Linked DNA regions of Homo sapiens. The protein of the gene in region 2 interacts with the protein of the main gene of each other region in a biochemical or structural test. Each region holds a gene or a part of one and is shown on either strand. Other genes may lie near its edges. The genes, in order: NOTCH1, RUNX3, GLI1 and DTX2.

Region 1 (4,749 bases), on a different chromosome or scaffold from region 2:
TCTCGGAACCTCCGTCTCTTTTACCATAAAGTGGGGAGAGTACTGCTTGCCATGGCGCCGGCCGTGAGGGGCAGGGAGGCCGTCGGGGAGGGCCCAGGAGAGTTGCGGGGATTGACCGTGGGCGCCGGGTCTCACTCACCCGCGGACGTCCATGGGGTCCAGCTCCCTCCGCCGCCGCCCACCCTCGCTGCCACCAGGGAGCAGCGAGGCCTTCACCTGGCCCAGCAGGGCGTCAGGTGCGGCCCAGCCCTCGGCGGCACGCTTGATGGGGTGCTTGCGCAGCTCCTCCTCGCGGCCGTAGTAGGGGAAGATCATCTGCTGGCCGTGTGCGTCACGCTTGAAGACCACGTTGGTGTGCAGCACGCGGCTGAGCTCCCGCAGGAAGTGGAAGGAGCTGTTGCGCAGCTGCTCCGGCGGCATCAGCACCACCACCACCAGCGTGCCGGCCGCCAGCCTCTCGGGTACATGCTCCGCACAGTCCAGCCCGTCCCACTCGCACTCCGCGCTGTTGCAGCCCTGGTCGCAGTGCCCGTCGCTGAAGTGGTCCTTGCAGTACTGGTCGTACAGGGGGCTGTGGGGGGCGGGACACGCTCAGGCCGCCTTCCTCGGGGGGCCTCGCACCCGCCGTCCGGTGCCTCCAGCCCACTGGCCAGCCGCGGGGGACGTCCCTGCACCCCCTGAGCAGAGCCTTAGAACTGCATGCTGGCCTCCGGGCCCAAGCCAGGCCACATCCAAGTTCAGGTCCTCCCTCAGCCCCATGAGCCCCGCAGCCTTACTTGCACTGGCCTTCCGCACGCTGGCAGTCAAAGCCGTCGAAGAGGCAGCCGGCTGAGTTGCACTGGCTGTCACAGTGGCCGTCACTGAAGTACTTCCAGCACTGCAGAGACTGCGTGCAGTTCTTCCAGGGGTCATTGAAGTTGAGGGAGCAGTCACCGCCGTCCCAGCCGCACGCGTGGTTGTTGCACTGCAGGCTGCAGACCTTGTTGCCCGCGTCCTCCTGGCACTCGGGCAGCTCGCACGCCTCCTCGATCAGCGGCGGGGGGATGTCGCGCCCGGCCCCACCCCCGAAGCTGTAGTCCAGGATGTGGCACAAGAGCCCGTTGAATTTGGCGGGGCACAGGCAACGGTAGAAGGGGCTCTCGGATGTGGGCTCACAGGTCCCCTGGTTGTAGCAGGGGTTGCCGCCCAGGCAGGGGCTGCTGGCCGGGAACTGGCATTCGGGGCCCGTGAAGGGGCCCAGGCACAGGCAGGTGGGGCTGCGCGGGCCGGAGATGCATGTGCCGCCGTTGAGGCAGCGCAGGCTGCCGCAGGTACGAGCGTCATTCTCACACGTGGCGCCCTCGAAGCCCTGCCCGAGAGGGAAGACAGGACGGTGTCGGGGTGGGCCACCCCCCGCCCCCCCGCCACCTCACACCCAGCCCTCGGCCAGCAGTGCCACCGCTCTCCTCTAACCTGGGAGGCGGCCTGCAACCTTGCCCCCAGCAGCAAAACCCTTTACACACATTCTACCAACAGAGAAAGATCGGGGGTGCCAGGGGGTCGGGAGATGGAGGAAGGGGTAAACTGGTGGAGTGCTGAGGACTTTAGGGCAGGGACTCTCTGCCGTGATCCTGCGAGGGTGGGCAGGCATGTCATACCTCAGCCCAAACCCACAACCACAAAGCCAAGGGCAAGCCCCAGGTACAGGAAGGGCTGCTGTTGGTAACAATGTATCACTGAAATCCAGAGTGAAATTGATGCAAGCTGCTAACCAGGGGAACTGCGTGCAGGGGACAGCCACCCCAGGGAGTCTACTTCCTGCTCCATTTTTCTATAAATCTAAAATGTCTCTAAAATCATTTATTGAAACTAAAAAAAAAAAAAAGACATCAGGGTGAGGAGGAGGATGAAGGCCGGGAGGATCACTGCCCGGTCTGCGCCCCGAGGCCCCCACGTGGACCTCTCCAGGTGTCTCCCCTGGCGGGCCCCTGCCTCCCTGCACCCCTGCACCTACCGCAGGGCACTTGCAGATGAACCCGCGGGCGGTGTTGGAGGCCACGGCGCAGGTGCCCCCATTCTTGCAGGGCTTGCCTTTGCAGCCATTGATGACGGACTCGCAGCGGCGCCCTAGGGGTAAGAGCAGGGCAGTGAGAGGCTCACCCTGCTGCCCCACACGCCCCACCCGCCTGGGCGCGGCACCCACCGGTGTGACCAGCACGGCACTCGCAGTGGAAGTCATTGACGCGCTGCACGCAGTTCTGGGTGCCACGGGCGTCGCAGGGATTGGACAGGCACTCGTTGACATCCCCCTCACAGCGCTCACCCACGAAGCCCGGCGGGCAGGTGCAGCTGTAGCCGCCCACCTGGTCCACGCAGGTGCCGTTGTTAAAGCACTTGGGGCTCCGGGACACGGGGTCAACGGGGGGATTGCAGTCGTCCACGTTGATCTCACAGTGCACACCTGCGGGGCCAGGTTTCGTCAGTGGCCCAAGCCCGCCACACCCCGGCCCTGCCGTGCCGCGTGTCCGTCCCGGAAGACGAGCGCTCAGGTCTGGGGCTGCACGGACACTCGGGAGAGGCAGGTGTCAAGGGTGCCGTGGAGACGCCCTTCCCACTGGGACCCCCGCTCTGGGCCCTTTCCCTGGGCAGCTGTGAGTCGGCCTTGGCCTCACACAGGAAAATGGGAGTTTCTGGCTGGTTCCTGGATGCCTCTGGCCGGTCCCGGGGTGCCTGCCCTGCCCCTGCCCTGGCCATGGATGGCCAACACCAGCCCTCCGTGCAGCGGCCCTTACCCTGAGTGCCCCGTGGGCAGGAGCACTTGTAGGTGTTGGGGAGGTCGAGGCAGGTGCCCCCGTTCTGGCAGGGGTGGGAGAGGCACTCGTCGATCTCCTCAGAGCAGTTCACCCCGTGGTAGCCGGCCACGCACTGTGCAGGCGACAGAACGAGGGGCCCTTCGGCTCAGCCGGCGCCAGGATGCAGTGCTCCCACACCCCACTGTGAGGGCTGACAGGGCCACATGAGCTGCCCTCAGGTCCAGCGAAGCCACGGGCCCCTCGCTCCTGTCAGACCTGGAGAGAGACCCAGCCCAACAGACCCTGGCGGGGCCTCGGTGACCGGAGTCACTGCCTGTTGGGGGTGGGTGGACCCCGTCCCATAGGATAGAGGTGAGGGCCTCAGGGTAGGTGTTGGCCAAGCCCAGACACAATCTAGGGGAAGGGAAAACCCCATCCCACTTCTCAGTATAGGTACCCTCCTTCAGGCTTTCCACAGGCCACCTCTTCCAGGCAGTCTACCCTGATTACCCCAGCCCTCCCCTAATGAGACTGAACAGTGCATGGGCCTATCAGGTTCAGTTTTCTCCACTGGGCCAGCTCCCAGCCAGGGCCTGGTGTGTGGCAACACTCGTGCCGGCCACAACCCTTACCCTAGGAGGGACCCCCACCTTGCAGGAGTAGCCGCCCAGGTAGTCCGTGCAGGTGGCCCCGTTCTGGCAGGGGCTGGGTGAGCACTCGTCCACCAGGTCCTCACAGTAGCTGCCTGTGTAGCCCGCCTGGCAGCGGCAGTGGTGCGTGTTGCCCGCGTCCACACAGAGCCCTCCATGCTGGCACAGGCGGGCAACGTCAACACCTGCGGGGGATGGGGTGGTAGACAGGTGAGGCCCAGGCCCACAGAGGACCTTGATGGGCTGGGACCCGAGCTGGGTGGGCACAGCAGGTTACCTTGTCGCTGCGCAGCCACCTCACAGGACACGCTGGGCACGTCGCAGTAAAGGCCGGTCCAGCCGCTGGGGCACTCGCAGCGGTACTGGGTGTGGGTCTGCCAGCATTTGCCGCCGTTCTTGCAGGGCGAGGAGTCACACCAGTGCACAAGGTTCTGGGGACAGATTGGGGTCAGCTGGGTGCCCGCGCCCCGGCCATTTCCCCGGTAGCTCAGAACGCACATCTGCCAAGGGGCCTACTCCAACCCAGGCTGCAACCCATTCTACAGAAGTGGAAACTGCCGCCCCTGGACTCCCCACCACCCCCACACCAGGAACAGCCTGGGCTGGGTCTCCCTCAGGGCCCTCAGCAGGTCCAGACCACCCTCGGCCTTTGCTAGAAGGAACACTTTTCCTCAATTCCCCAATTCCTGAGCTCCTGCCCCGGCTCCAGAAACCTGGGATTGAAACGAAGGTGCCTGCTGCTTCCGCATCAGGTTCCTTCACCGGCTGCTCAGATCCCCAGAAACCCTCTGCCCGGGGGTGTGGGGGTGACCCCGAGCCGACACAGTGGGACCTGGGGTGACCGTTCCCACCTCCCGCAGGTAGGCACCCACCCAGGGCCCCTCCTTCGGGCACCTCTGTGGCCGGCGCACTCACCTGGCAGTTGGGGCCAGTGTAGCCCTGGGGGCAGGTGCACCTGTAGGAGCCGCAGCCGTCCTGACAGGTGCCGCCATGCAGGCAGGGCTGTGAGTCGCACTCATTGACATCGTGCTGGCAGTAGCTGCCCGTGAAGCCGGGTGGACACAGGCAGGTGAACGAGTTGATGCCGTCCACGCAGGTGCCACCGTTGAAGCAGGAGCTGCAAGGGGGTGGGCAGGCGGGGGCTGAGTGGAGGGCATTGGTGGGTCCCCGCTCCAGCAGATTCTGCCTCGCCAGCACCTCCCCTTCTGCTCAACCCTAGGGGCCTGATGGCCAGGACAGGCCCAGGGCAGCCTGGCTGACCCAGGGAGGCCAGTGGGAACCCGGGGCCCGGCTCTCACACCACGTCACACCTCCCTCCCCTGCTTTCT
Region 2 (4,749 bases):
CCCTGCATCCCCCCGCCCCGTGTCTTCAGGTGGTGGCATTGGGGGACGTGCCGGATGGTACGGTGGTGACTGTGATGGCAGGCAATGACGAGAACTACTCCGCTGAGCTGCGCAATGCCTCGGCCGTCATGAAGAACCAGGTGGCCAGGTTCAACGACCTTCGCTTCGTGGGCCGCAGTGGGCGAGGTAAGTGGAAGGGAGGCCTCGCCATTTCAGCATTGGCAATGGCAGGGGCAGCAGGGAAGGAGGTTGAAAGAGGGGCCTTAGAATCCCGAAAAACAGGTCTCCAGATGCAGCTCTGTCTAAAAACAGCAATTTGTAATCCTGTAGGATATTACAGATCGCTTTGAGGAGGTGAGGAAAGTTATGGTCTCTTGCCAGAAAAAGACAATTTTCTCCCAGTTTCTAGGGTTTACCAACTCCTGAAACCGTTCATGCCACCCCCTCTTTCCCGGTTAAGCACACCTGGTCTCACAAAAAATGCTGGCAGGAGATGGTGGATTAACAAGCTCAAAAAGGGAGCTTATAGGTCTTTCAGCAAGGCGGTTGCAGGACAAGTCCCTGATCTGTGGGGCCCAAGCACCCCAGCCACTCTCTCCATAGGGGGCAGAATATCCCCCACACTCTGAGGCTGTCTCTCCAGCTGTGGTCTCCCAGACCCAGTTTCCCAGCGCCTTTGAGCCCTAGGTGGTCTAGAACGGAAGCTAACGCAGCTGAATGTTGGAAAGCACAGCTCGAAGGCTGCCATCTCCTGCCCCAGAGTCAAGGCGGGTGTGCCACCCTGCCTGTCTGACCGACCTTGAGCAGCAGAAGGAAGGCGGGACGGGGGTGGGGGGCTGTTGAATGGGAGGCTTCTGGGACCTGAAACCCATCATCACTTAACTCCTGGATGGGAAAGTCCTGGAAACCCTGCCCCTGTGGAACGGAGGCCTGAGGGTCCACTGGCCCTTTAAGACCAGCCTGCCTACGAGAAGTGGCTGAAGTGGGAGTCGCCCTTCCCAAGCACCAGGCCCGCCTCTAGCTTTGTTAAGAAGTAAGCTGGGTTCCCTCTGCTCCCCAACTCCACAGCAGGCTGAAGTGGCTGAAGCAGAACCGTGCTTTTCATCACCAATAAACAGGACCTTCTCAAGGTTCTAGTTCCCTCTGAGCTGCCAGCCCCGCTCTGAAACAGGCATCTGGGCACCATTTTTTCCTTTCCAGCCGTTCGATGTATACATACAAATGTCAGCCATATTTTGACTTTTCAGCATTAATTAAAACCAGGACATTATTTGCATGTAATAACTGTTTACTTGTTACTTTTTATGAAACTGAAATAGTTTACATTCTTTCAAACATTTCCTGTTCCTGTTGGCTCCCTTCCCCACACACAGATTTCTTTCAAACGGTGCCCTTAACTGGTTGCAGGTTGATGGATGGAAAATGTTTGCTTTTATGAATTAAGCTTTCATTGCTGCTCCTAATTAGTCTCCAAGTCCCTTTTGTCATCCCCAATCTCTCAAACCCTTTGCGACTTAATCCCAACCCTGAGAGGACAGTCACTGGTCCTTGGTCGGTGGCAGACAAGGCTGATGAGCTCTGCTGACTGCGGGGCAGTGGCCAGGTCTGCTAGCCCAGGTATGTGTCAGGAGCACTATAGCTGCTGCCTGTTGCGAGGCGGGCAGAAGGTGCTGTCGATCTGGGAGCCCAGCAAGGCATCAGGAACTTGATTCTCCCTTCCCACTCTCTCTCCTGGGAAGCGAGAGAAAGAGAAGAGACGACGATTTTCTGAGTTACCGAGACCTTGTCTGGCCATTCTGCACACTGAGAATGATTTTTTTAGGGGTTTTCATGCCCACAGACCTTGAGCCCCCCTCCCCAGGCCTGCAGGGAGGGAAATGGGTTTCCAAGGCGTTGGTTGGGAGCTTGTCCTTGTAGCAGGAATGGCCGAGGCTGGGACTGTGGCTCTGGGAGATGCAAGAGGCTGAGTTTATAAACCATTCTCTCATCCATCTCCTCTCAGAGGTCCATAACCAGTCTCAGTGGTCCTGGGAGGCAGGAAGTGATCTGAGGAGGAGTTCCGATGTCTGAGGAACTGTGGCTAAGGCGTTCAGCCTTCAGAGGCTCGAGGTCTTTGAGAGCCTGCATTCTAGTATCAGCCACCCTGCGTTTGAGTCCCAGCTCTGCTAATGACTTGCTGGATGACATTGGGCAAATGACTTAACCACTCTGTGCCTCAGTTTCCTCATCTGTGAGATGGGGATGATAATGGTACCTACCTCATGAGATTTTGGGAAGGTTAGGGAAATTGACACAAGTGTATCAGCTGGCGCATATTGAGAGCTGGATACATGTTAGAGATTTTGTTACTTCAAATGCCTGGGACTGGAGGAGGACTTTGAGGTCCCTTTGAGCGGTGACAGCCACTGATTCTCTGATTACTGTGTGGTTTGGGCGGGGGTGGGGGAAACCCAGAAGGTGTGAACTGCTGAGTGGGAGAGGTGGAGGCGGTTGGCAGGGAGGAAGGAGGGTGCCGGGTCCGCTGGCATGCAGACACACATCTGCAGTGCCCATCCTGCTGACTGGGAAATTCCCACCTGAGAGAACAGTCAGTGGTTGACAGTGACAATCTGGGCCACTTTAGGAGATGGGACACTTTGGGAGTTAAGACTGGGGGTTGGGACCCAGAACCCTTGCCTGGGTCTCTTGACTTCTGCCAGAACTAAGAAGTCTGATGGAAACCTCTGCTTGTTGCCTCAATTTTTAGTTCTACATTCTGTCTGAATTCCAGGAAGATGGCTTTCCATGAAAGACACGCACCCAGTAACACCACAGAGCTCTTAACAACAGGGCTGAAGGTGTGAACCAAGAAAAGGAAGGGAGGAAAACCAGGTCATTGCTGTCTCCTGCAGTGATTAGGGCTGAGGTCCCTGCCCTGCCAGACACGAGGAGCCTTTCTTACAATACATATTTTATATCAAGCCTTACTATTCTACGTTGAAATGTATAAATAATGAAACCTACCTATTTACATGCAGTTGCAAACTATGTTATTCCATAGCTATGATGGAGAAAAAAAGGGAAAGTAATTTATAATAAAACACTGATTTGAATATGTAAACGTTGGGGCCACAGGACTCCATGAGGTGGACGAATGCCCTCCATGCAGAAGCCCACAGCAGAGGGAACAGGCAGGGTGGCAGGGCTCAATCTGAACCTGGCCTTGCTGCCAATACCATGACTTTCTGAAGTTGTCAACACCTGTTGGCAAAGCGCTGAACAAAATTAAAAAAAAAAAAAGAACTGTCTTTCCTTCTGGAAAATTCAGTAGATATTAAAAGTACAAAAAAAACCCTTGTTTTATGTAAAACTGAGTTAGGTTCATGACTCAGATAATTTTTTTTTCTTTTACTTTTTTTTGGGACAAGGTCTCGCTCTGTCGCCCAGGCCAGGGTGCAGTGGTGCGATCACTGCAGTCTCAACCTCCTGGTCTCAAGCAGTCCTCCCACCTCAATAGCTGGGACTATAGGCATGCGCCACCATGCTCAGCTGATTTTTTAAAATTATTTGTTGTAGAGATGGGGGTGTTGTTCACTGTGTTGCTCAGGCTGGTCTTGAACTCCTGGACTCAAGCGATCCTCCTGCCTCAGCCTCTCAAAGTGTTGGGATTACAGGCATGAGCCACTGCGACCAGCCAGAGAACTTTTATAAGCAAGTTTTTCCCTCCCAGGAAGAATTGAATCTTCACCACCCTGGGCAGCGTTGGGTGCTGGCATCCCCCACCACATACACGCACCCCACCCCTAACGCTGGCAGTGCCACCCCAACACTATGTTGACCACACGCCACCACAAATCCCAAAAATGCCCCTCTAGCAGGCGGCCACTGGCCTAAGTGAAAATGAAAAGCACATGAGCTCTCGAGCTGTGATCAACTGGTTAAAAAGCAACTGTGTGTCGACAGAGATTCGGGGTGCAGTGTGCCGGTGCAGGCTGAGGGGAACCGCTGGTTGGGGGAGAGATGAATGGCTTCTTGGCTGAAGCTGAGAAAACCCCGAGGTCCCCTGAGACTGAGACACGTCCCCTCCCCCCACCCATGCAGCTCCTGTGGGTGGGGCGGGGACCTTATACACATAGGAACCCAGGCAGAGAATGCTCAAGGACTTGCCTGAGGCCCTGCTGCCACCCCGGCTGGTTGATGATGGGTCCTGGAGGAGTTTCTGGAGCCCTAAAGGAAACCCATTTCCCAGACCAAGACTTCTCCCCTGCAACCAGGGCCAGCCCTCAGAGAGCCTGGGTTTACACTTCCTGGGCTCCTGATGGATTGCAGGTTTGCCTGGGACTCCTGCACAGAGTTATATCTAGAGGCTGAGAGAGAGGGATGGATGGGTTTGCCACTGCCAGGCAGAGAGAGAGCTGGGCAGGGCCGGGGTAGCTGAGGGGCACTCAGGGAGACAGCTTTCTCCCACCCCTGCTCCCCAGGCTCCCTGTCTCCCGAGGTCCAGGACTCCTGCCCCTCCCTCTCACTCCTCCTCTTAGGCCCCACACTCCTCTCCTTTGTACCTGGGAGGGGTGGTGACAGGCGTGGAAGCTGGTGGAAGCGGCCGAGGAGTGCTGGTGACCTCAGGGGTGGCATGTGGTTTGCTACCTGGTATGGGTGGGGGCTTCTCACTTCTCAGGAGCGGGACGTTAGTACCTGTGTGCAAAATGGGAGCCATTATCTCTGCCCTTAATTTATTTAACAAATGTTGTTGAGCACCTACTCTGTGCC
Region 3 (4,749 bases), on a different chromosome or scaffold from region 2:
GGGTGACCCCTGCATTGGGGTTGTATCCTGGATACTCGGCTCGGCTTCTCCAAGGAGGCATGGGAAGACCACCTATCCGATCCAGGCTGGATGCTGCAGTGGGCGAAGTACCACCCCCTCTGGCTGAAGCATATCTTGCCCGAAGCAGGTAGTGCTGGGCAGGCATAAGGCCAGGCAGGGAGGATGCTCCATTCTCTGGTGGGGAGCCAGGGGGGAAAGGAGAGGCCAGGGAGGAGCGGCGGCTGACAGTATAGGCAGAGCTGATGCTGCTGGAGCTGCTGCTGCGGCGTTCAAGAGAGACTGGGGGGCCCACGCGGCGGGACACAGTGGTACCTGCAAGTGATGGGGAGAAAAGGTAGGATGGTCAAGGAGCTTCCTAAATTTCACCCTGCCTCCTCCATGCAACAGCCTTGCCCTGGATTCTCAGGGGTAAGCTCGTTATCCCTAACCAGTCTGTTCTGTCTCCTACTTCTCCCATGCCTATTCTGTTTCTGGGTTACCAAGGATTCAGGGTTGCTATGAACAGTTGTGCAGGTTGTGTGCTGCACAATCCTAGGGAACAGCATTCGCATCATAGCCTTTGCATACTTGTTTGTTTGTTTGTTTTGTTTTGTTTTGTTTGAAACAGAGTTTCGCTCTTGTTGCTCAAGTTGGAGTGCAATGGCGCAATCTCAGCTCACTGCAACCTCTGCCTCCCAGGTTCAAGCAATTCTCCTGCTTCAGCTTCCTGAGTAGCTGGGATTACAGGTGCCCACCACCATGCCTGGCTAGCCTTTGCATGTTTGTACATCACAACTATTTTCTGATAAATGGAAAGTGTCTTGAGGAAGGACACCATTTTCTAATTATACAAAAGTGCTGTGTGACAGCCCTCAAGGGTGACTTCCTCCTCTCAACCTCAGGGCAGGTCCAGATCTCACCCCAGCCACACCTCCCACACCCAGGTCTCACCGGTGTGGGACAAGCTGGGCAGTTTGAGACCCCGGGTCCCTATTGGCCGGAGTTGATGTAGCTGGTCCAGCCTGAGGTTCTCAAGGCGGCGAAGAGTGGACAGACCAGTGCCAGCAATGCAAGGTCCCTCGTCCAAGCTGGAGAGGTCTTCAGTGCTGCCCCCTGCATTGCCAGTCATTTCCACACCACTGTCTGTATTGGCTGCACTCCCTGCCGGGGAGTGGTCACTGCTGCAGGATGACTGGGCCCCAGGGCTTGGCTGTGGCTTCTGTGGAGAAGATGAGGTCTGAGGGCAACACCCTTCCCCACAGCTCCTTCAACTTGATGAGTGGCTGAAGCCTGTGTCCCAGTGACTGCTGGGGTTCCAAGGAAGCTTGTAAGTGTAGAAAGGGCTAAGCAGGTAAGAGATGGGGGAGCAAACTGAATGTGAGACGTTTGATGAGAAGAACCTAGGCTGGAGCACGGACTGGCTGGACTCAAATTCTTGCTCTTAGTTCTATGACCTTGGGCTATTTCTCTATGCCTGAGTTTCTTCAACTGAAAATGGGAACAGTGAGTCCCTTTATCATGAAGTTGCTGTGAGGAGTACATGAAATTATACATGTAAAAGGCTTGGAACATATACTAAGTGCTATTTAAGAAAGAGTTGCCGGGTGCAGTGGCTCACGCCTGTAATCCCAGCACTTTGGGAGGCCGAGGTGGGCAGATCACGAGGTCAGGAGATCAAGACCACCCTGGTTAACACAGTGAAACCCCATGTCTACTAAAAATACAAAAAAATTAGCCCGGCGTGGTGGCAGGCGCCTGTAGTCCCAGCTACTCAGGAGGCTGAGGCAGAATGGCGTGAACCTGGGAGGCGGAGGTTGCAGTGAGCCGAGATCATGCCACTGCACTCCAGCCTGGGCAACAGAGCGAGACTCCGTCTGAAAAAAAAAGAAAGAGTTTGGGTTGGATGCATTGGCTCATCCCAGCACTGTGGGAAGCTGAGGTGGGAGGATCGCTCAAGGCCAGGAGTTTGAGACCAGCCTGGTCAACATAGCAAGACTCGATCTCTAAAAAGAAGAAAAATTAGCCAGGCATGATGGGGTGTGCCTGTAGTGATCACTTGAGCCCAGAAGTTTGAGGCTGCAGTGAGCTATGATTATGCCACTACACTCCAGCCTGGGCGACAGAGCAAGACTCTGTCAGAAAGAAAGAGAGAAAGAGAGAGAGAGAGAAAGAAAGAAAGGAAGAAAGGAAAGAAGGAAAGAAGGAAGGAAGGAGAGAGAGAAAGAGAGTGAGAGAGTGAGACAGAAAGATTCTAAAACCTCTAGATTTGGGGAAGCCCAAAGAGCAACACTAAGACAAGAGACAGGCAGACTGGTCACAGAAGAGTGACTTCTATAGGAGGGAATGGATGGGTTGGGAAGTAACTAGAAAGATGTCCACAGGGTGGGCTGGGGTATGGAGGTGAGGGTTGCCTGGGCTCTCTCACCATGGCACCCTCTGGCACAGTCAGTCTGCTTTCCTCCCTGATGGGACCTCCTTCCCGCTCCCTCTTGGGCTCCACTGTAGAAATGGATGGTGCCCGAGGCAGGGGGCCATCCCCACGGTGCCGTTTGGTCACATGGGCGTCAGGACCATGCACTGTCTTGACATGTTTTCGCAGCGAGCTAGGATCTGTATAGCGTTTGGTGCAGCCAGGGAGCTTACATACATACGGCTTCTGTTGAGTGGAGAGTGGAGACAGAAGGCAAACGGATCAAAGCGGAAGAATGCAGAAGAAATGGGAAAAAGTGGTGACAACACAGGGGGCAGGGGAGGAGCACACAGCACCAAAGGAAGTAAGGAGGATGGAGGCCTCCGGTGGGAGTCAAAGATGCAGAGATTAAGTGGAGGGTTAGGAAAACTGACAGCCTGGGAAAGATGAGGGGGTGAACCCAGGGCTGTGAGGTCCCATAAATCCAGGGGTTGGAGGGATCAGGGGTCTCCTCTAGATGGAATCTTTTAGGTTAGCCTTTTGGCTGGTTAGAGGTTAGAGGTAGGAGGAGGAGTGGTTAAGTGGAAATTCTGGGTTTCAGAAAAGCCTTTTCTGGGCGAATTATGTGGGGAGGGGGACTCACCTCTGTGGAGTGGGTGCTGGGCTAAGGGATTTCTTATGGGGGAATCTCCCTGGTAGGTGGCTTCTCAAGAGGGGAGGGTCGCTTAGTTAGGGCATTCACCTCATTGGAATGGGTCCGATTCTGGTGCTTGGCTCGGTCACTGGCATTGCTGAAGGCTTTACTGCAGCCCTCGTGCTCACACATGTATGGCTTCTCACCCGTGTGTGACCGCAGGTGCGTCTTCAGGTTTTCGAGGCGTGAGTATGACTTCCGGCACCCTTCAAACTGGGGGACATGCAGGGGTCAAAGGATAGTTCTCAGACAGAGGACATGGAGATGGAAGGAACCCTCAATCTCCAACAGGACACACATCAGAGAATATAACTCAAGATGAAAGGCACTGGGGCTTCGAGAGAATTCCCAAAACTAGGGGACAAGGGCAGGCAAGAACTTGGAGAAGGGAAGCAGTTGGAGGCACTCTCCCTTTGGGAATATAAAGATGCTAGAGCATCTTCTGACCAAGCCAGGGCAGATTTCTCTGCATGGGGATCTTAGGCTGTCCCAAGATGGGGTCATCTTGGGGGAACGGGCTGTTGTCCTTGATGCAGGGTTTATCCATTAGGCAGAGTAGTAGGCACAGTACTGAAGGCCAACAATACTTTAAGAGGCCCACGAACATGTTTTAATGTCTTTTTTAAAAAAAATTTTTTTTTTGAGGCGGAGTTTTGCTCTGTCGCCCAGGCTGGAGTGCAGTGGCGCCATCTCAGCTCACTGCAACCTCCACCTCCTTGGTTCAAGTGATTCTTCTGCCTCATCCTCCCAAGTAGCAGGGACTACAGGCGCCCATCACCACGCCCAGCTAATTTTTATATTTTTTAGTAGAGACAGGGTTTCACCAATATTGGCCAAGCTGGTCTCGAACTCCTGACCTTGTGATCTGCCTGGCTCAGCCTCCCAAAGTGCTGGGATTACAGGTGTGAGCCACCGTGCCTGGCCTGTTTTAATGTCTTTTAAAATCAAGGGGAAAAAAATGAGCTTTTAGGTCCAAGAGTGTTTTAATATATATCATCATATTCATCTTTATGCCAACACAGTCACACAAACATTATTTTTAATATTTGTTTATGGAAGAAAGGACTTATAAAAGCAAAAGTCTGCCTTGGGCCCTACCTTGAAGGAGAGCCCTGATTTAGGAAGAGACCCTGGACTTGGGACACTGGTGCCTCACCGTGCACTTGTGTGGCTTCTCGCCAGTGTGTCTGCGCATGTGAACCACCAGCATGTACTGGGCTTTGAAGGGCCTCAGCTCCCTGGAGCAGCCCCCCCAGTGGCACACGAACTCCTTCCGCTCCCCGTGGATGTGCTCGCTGTTGATGTGCTGAGGGAGAAGATACAAAGGCTCTCCAAGGCTCTCCCATGACCCTGAGGTCCAGAACAGACCTTCCCTCCACCCCCTGTTCCTCTTCCACGACTCCACCTCAAGGAGGAAGAGGCAGGAGCAATATCATATCTCACATCTCAGGTCTTCCAGCTCCCTAAGGCAAAGCTACAACTTCTGAGCTTCTGCCTACCCAACTGAGCATTCAACCTCAGTCTCCTCTGACCTCCTGCCCTCAGCCGGATTCCACCATGTCCCACTCAGAATCTCCTAAAGGTTCTGGCTAGCCATTCCTGTTACCCCCTGGGGCTCACGTGCACCAGCTGCTCTTGGGAGTCA
Region 4 (4,749 bases), on a different chromosome or scaffold from region 2:
ATGCTTAGCTAATTTTTAAAGTTTGTGCAGAGGCAGCTTCACTGTGTTGCCCAGGCTGGTCTTGAACTCCTGGGCTCAAGCAATTCACCCGCCTTGGCCTCCCAAAGTGCTGGGATGATAGACATGAGCCACCATGCTCGGCAGTGTTCATCTTTCGTAGCTATTGCTAGACCATTTCCTGAATGTAGTGCTTATACCAGTATCCACTTTACCAGCAGTGTCCTGTGTCTTGCAGCTCCACAGTCTTACCAACATTTGCTGTTGGCCAAGTGAATGGGTAGAAAATGGAATCTTTGGGAACTTGGTTTCTAGGTCCCTGAGCCCTGCTGCTGAATATCTCCTCTTATGTTTATTGGCATATGTGTTTCCTGTGAAATATTCATGTCTTTTGCCAGTTTTTCATTAGGGTTCTTGGTGCTTTATTTTTTGTTGATCTATAGGGCTCTTTATATATTGCTGATTTTAATCCTTCGTGTCTATTGCAAATATCTTCTCCCAGCTTTTAACCTATTATTCCTCTTTCTTTAAGGTGTCTTCTGTTGATCAGCCATTCTTCATTTTAACATAGCGAAATGTATTTTTTCCCTAGTACTCAGTTTTCTGGGTCTGGTTTGAAGTCTTTTCCTGAACATAACCCTTGCCTTTAAGGAGCGTATGCATTCTCCAGTGGAGGAGACAGATAATGGCACTGAGACGTCATGTGGGCATTGATTGTTAGAAGTGGCCACTTCTGCCTGTGGAGCGGGAGCGAACTTAGGAAAGATCTCACAGGGCAGAGTCTTGAGCTAGGAATTAAGAGATGAGTAAGTGGACAAGTGCGATGGGCATTCTCAGTGGGGGACGAAGGGCATGAAACATCCTGACCTGCCCTGGGCACTGCCAGGAGGTCCAGATGGCAGGAGCTGACGGTTTGAGGGGCTCGGGCAGGGCATCCCGAGGACAGCTTTGGGTGATCTGTATGCAAGGGAATATTGAAGCCATGGGAACAGATCCTGAGGATCCGGGGGGAATGGAGAGAGGAGGGGAGGAGGGGAGAGGGAGGCCAGGGCCTGATTCCCGGATGCAGAGAATGTTATCAACGCCCGGTGTGGCTCTGGGGAGCACCTGGGGCTTCCCAGGGGCGGGTGCTGTTGGCATGCTGCCTGCTGTGCTGTTGGATGCTGTATTTCACCCTTAGGTGTTGGGCAAAGGCTGACATGTCTGCAGAGGGCAGGGCGTGTTGTTGGCAAAGCTAGCCAGAGGCAGAGCACTCTCTCACTTTTTGATAGAGACATGAGTTCAGAGAAGTATTGCTCAACTGTAGGAGTGTGAAAGTACAGTAATAGATGTGAGGGAGGCCACAGGGCAGAGGTCTGCAAACGATGGACCCTCAGCCAAATCTGGCCCACTGCCATTTTTTTTTTTTTTTTTTTTTTTTTTTTGAGATGGAGTCTCACTCTGTTGCCAGGCTGGAGTGCAATGGCACGATCTCAGCTCACTGCAGCCTCCGCCTCCCAGGTTCAAGAAATTCTCCTGCCTCAGCCTCCTGAGTAGCTGGGATTACAGGCACCAGCCACCATGCCTGGCTAATTTTTGTATTTTTAGTAGAGACAAGGTTTCACCATGTTGGCCAGGCTGGTCTCGAACTCCTGACCTCAGGTGATCCACCCCCGCTTGGCCTCCCAAAGTGCTGGGATTATAGGCGTGAGCCACCACGCCCAGCATTTTTTTTTTTTTTTTTTTTTTGAGGCAGGGTCTAACTCTGTTGCCCAGGCTGGAGTACAGTGGCACAGTCTCGGCTCACTGCAGCCTCCGCCTCCTGGGTTCAAGTGATTCTCCTGCCCCAGCCTCCCAAGTAGCTGGGACTACAGGTGCACGCCACTACGCCTGGCTCATCTTTGTATTTTTTTGGTAGATACGGGGTTTCACTGTATTGGCCAGGCTGGTCTCAAACTCCTGGCCTCAAATGATCCACCCACCTCAGCCTCCCGAAGTGCTGGGATTACAGGCGTGAGCTACCGCATTCAGCCCCACTGCCTGATTTTGTTCATAAAGTTATATTGGTATGCAACCCCTCCTGTTTACACATTGTTTATGGTTGTTCTTGTGGTCTAGTGGCAGAGTCACTGCAAAGACTTTTTCTGTCCTTTACAGGAAAAGCATGCTGGCCCTAGCCATAGGGAGTCATGGTAGCTGTGGCCACCCAGAGAGGACGTTCCAGCCACCATTGCAGTTTAGCTGGTGTTGCTAGGTAGATCATGGATCTAGGTCCAGCCTGCAAATATTGCCATCTTTCCTGATTTTCAAGGGAAGCTTGAAATCTAGATTTTTTTTTTTTTTTTTTTTACTGTGAATATTCCTTTTTTTTTTTTTTTTGAGACGGATTCTCATTCTGTCGCCCAAGCTGGAGTGCAGTGGCATAATCTTGGCTCACTGCAACCTCCACTTCTTAGGTTCAAGCAATTCTCCTGCCTCAGCCTCCCGAGTAACTGGGACTACAGGCGCTCGCCACCACACTTGGCTAATTTTTTGTATTTTTTAGTAGAGACAGGGTTTCACTGCATTAGCCAGGATGGTCTCGCTCTCCTGACCTCATGATCTGCCTGCCTCGGCCTCCCAAAGTGCTGGGATTACAGGTGTGAGCCACTGAGCCCGGCCAAATATTCCAATTTTTAAACATCAGCTCAGTTTTTAAAAGCCAAACCTTAGTAACCCAAGCAAAACACATCTACAGGCCAGTTTGTCCGTCGTCAGTCTGTCTTGGTGGGAAAGACAGGAACTCTGGAAACAGATTTGGGTTTTCTCAGTCCCTGGATATCCTTGGGCAAGCTGCATGTCTTCTGGTGACTCACTTTTCTCAGTTGTGGTATGGAAATATCCCGCTTCCCCAGTTGTGAGGACCAACGAGAATTACTAGTCAGGTGGAGGGGCTTAGCACGGTGCCTGGTGCCTGGTAAACCTTTACCTGGTAGCCATTGCTGTTATTCATTTATTTATTTATTTTACACAATAATTTACTTATTGAGAGCCTTCTCTCCCCGCCCTTGCAGTCTCTAGGTCACTTTTTCCACTTGTAGATTTTGTGCACAAGCCCCAGAAAGATGGCTGGGGGCAGGGGCTCTGCGTACTATTCGATGAGACCCATAACGTGGCTGTAACTGTCTTTCTCATACTGCAAGAACACGGCTGGCAGATCCAGCTCCTCGTATAGTGCCTTCACCCGGGCCACCTTCTCGGCCTCCTTCTGCCTGTAATTTTCCTTCAGGATCTGGTACTGTTCTGGAGTGGCCTGTAGCAGACACTGAACCACCAGCCAGCTGCATTTGTTGTCCTGGAAGTCATTGCCAACTCTGCCAGTCACACTGGGGTCCCCAGAGAAGTCAAGGTAATCATCCTGAATCTGAAAGAACTCTTGAATCTCCAGCAGGATCTTCTTGGCACTGGTGTGCTCCTTCTTGTCATCCATTCTTGACATGTACATGGCTGCAGCTACAGGAAGGTAGAAGGAGTAGAAAGCTGTCTTGTACTTGACAACAGATTTGTGCCTTTTTTCGGTGCATCTGCGAAGATCCACATTGCCCTGGGGGGTTGTGATGAGGTCGAGGGTCTGCCCAATCTCAGTCTGATAAGAATTCTGCTGGAAGAGCTCCATCAGGTTCAGGTAATAGGGCTGCTCCCGGCAATACAGCTTCAGCAGGCAGTAGATACATGCTTCCAGAAGGATAGCATCATTGATGGCATCCAAACCCATGCCCAGCTTCTGATACCAGGAGATCTGTCCCTGGCAGGTAAGGGATGAATCCATAATGTCATCTGCCACCAGGAAGAAAGCTTGCAGCAGTTGCGCATACCAGCCCACAGTCGGTGCCCACTGGAGACTATCAGCATCCAGTTTCCTCGGCTCCACCAGCTCCCGGAACGCTACTAGCACCATCAAACCTCGGTGATACTTGCCTCCAATGGCATTGTACTCCAGGACCTCCTTGAGCCGGGCAGTAGCATCTCCTGTCTCTGGGTGCCCCATCTCATCCTCAGTCAGCACCCTAACGATCTGGGAGTAGTGCTGAACGAAATCCTGCTTTGCTTGGGCATAAATATCTGATTTCTGGTTTCCATTCGTTCTTTTTTTTTTTTTTTTTTTTTTTGAGACGGAGTCTTGCTCTGTCGCCCAGGCTGGAGTGCAGTGGCGCGATCTTGGCTCACTGCAAACTCCACTTCCTGGGTTCACGCCATTCTCCTGCCTCAGCCTCCCTAGTAGCCGGGACTACAGGCACCCGCCACCGCGCCCGGCTAATTTTTTGTATTTTTAGTAGAGACAGGGTTTCACCATGTTAGCCACGATGGTCTCGATCTCCTGACCTCGTGATCCGCCCGCCTTGGCCTCCCAAAGTGCTGGGATTACAGGTGTGAGCCACCGCGCCCAGCCTGGTTTCCATTCATTCTGAGGGAGGAGCAAAGGGCTGTGTTCCTGGATGCGGGTTCCTGCTTGGCTGTTATTTATTTTTTTTTAAAGAGACAGGGTCTCGCTCTGTTGCCCAGGTTGGAGTGTAGTGGCACGATCATAGCTCACTGCAACTTTGAACCCCTGGGCTCAAAGCAGTCCTTCTGCCTCAGCCAGTCAAAGTGCTGGGATCACAAGGTGTGAGCCACTGCACCAGGCCTGCTATTACTGTTACCATTACACATCCACTGCTGCCCCTATTACTCCCCTACTTTGCCCTCTGGGTAGGCCCGTAAACCAGGGCTCCACCTTCTGACTGGCTGCAGGTG

What was found.
Region 1: the proteins of RUNX3 (region 2) and NOTCH1 form a complex in vitro, tested with the Homo sapiens proteins (one study listed by BioGRID).
Region 3: the proteins of RUNX3 (region 2) and GLI1 form a complex in vitro, tested with the Homo sapiens proteins (one study listed by BioGRID).
Region 4: the proteins of RUNX3 (region 2) and DTX2 form a complex in vitro, tested with the Homo sapiens proteins (one study listed by BioGRID).

Annotation. Positions count from the first base shown.
Region 1 is NC_000009.12:136,504,534-136,509,282, forward strand, and holds part of NOTCH1 (neurogenic locus notch homolog protein 1 preproprotein), read right to left. Parts: intron 4,539-4,749; coding exon 4,337-4,538; intron 3,853-4,336; coding exon 3,699-3,852; intron 3,607-3,698; coding exon 3,422-3,606; intron 2,905-3,421; coding exon 2,772-2,904; intron 2,441-2,771; coding exon 2,183-2,440; intron 2,107-2,182; coding exon 1,994-2,106; intron 1,349-1,993; coding exon 777-1,348; intron 572-776; coding exon 140-571; intron 1-139. UniProt on the Homo sapiens protein: Functions as a receptor for membrane-bound ligands Jagged-1 (JAG1), Jagged-2 (JAG2) and Delta-1 (DLL1) to regulate cell-fate determination.
Region 2 is NC_000001.11:24,923,011-24,927,759, reverse strand, and holds part of RUNX3 (runt-related transcription factor 3), read left to right. Parts: intron 1-29; coding exon 30-186; intron 187-4,749. UniProt on the Homo sapiens protein: Forms the heterodimeric complex core-binding factor (CBF) with CBFB.
Region 3 is NC_000012.12:57,465,901-57,470,649, reverse strand, and holds part of GLI1 (zinc finger protein GLI1), read right to left. Parts: coding exon 4,725-4,749; intron 4,411-4,724; coding exon 4,261-4,410; intron 3,318-4,260; coding exon 3,153-3,317; intron 2,657-3,152; coding exon 2,426-2,656; intron 1,220-2,425; coding exon 952-1,219; intron 334-951; coding exon 1-333. UniProt on the Homo sapiens protein: Acts as a transcriptional activator. Binds to the DNA consensus sequence 5'-GACCACCCA-3'. Regulates the transcription of specific genes during normal development.
Region 4 is NC_000007.14:76,467,056-76,471,804, forward strand, and holds part of DTX2 (probable E3 ubiquitin-protein ligase DTX2), read left to right. Parts: intron 1-2,964; exon of another isoform or gene 2,965-4,749. UniProt on the Homo sapiens protein: Regulator of Notch signaling, a signaling pathway involved in cell-cell communications that regulates a broad spectrum of cell-fate determinations.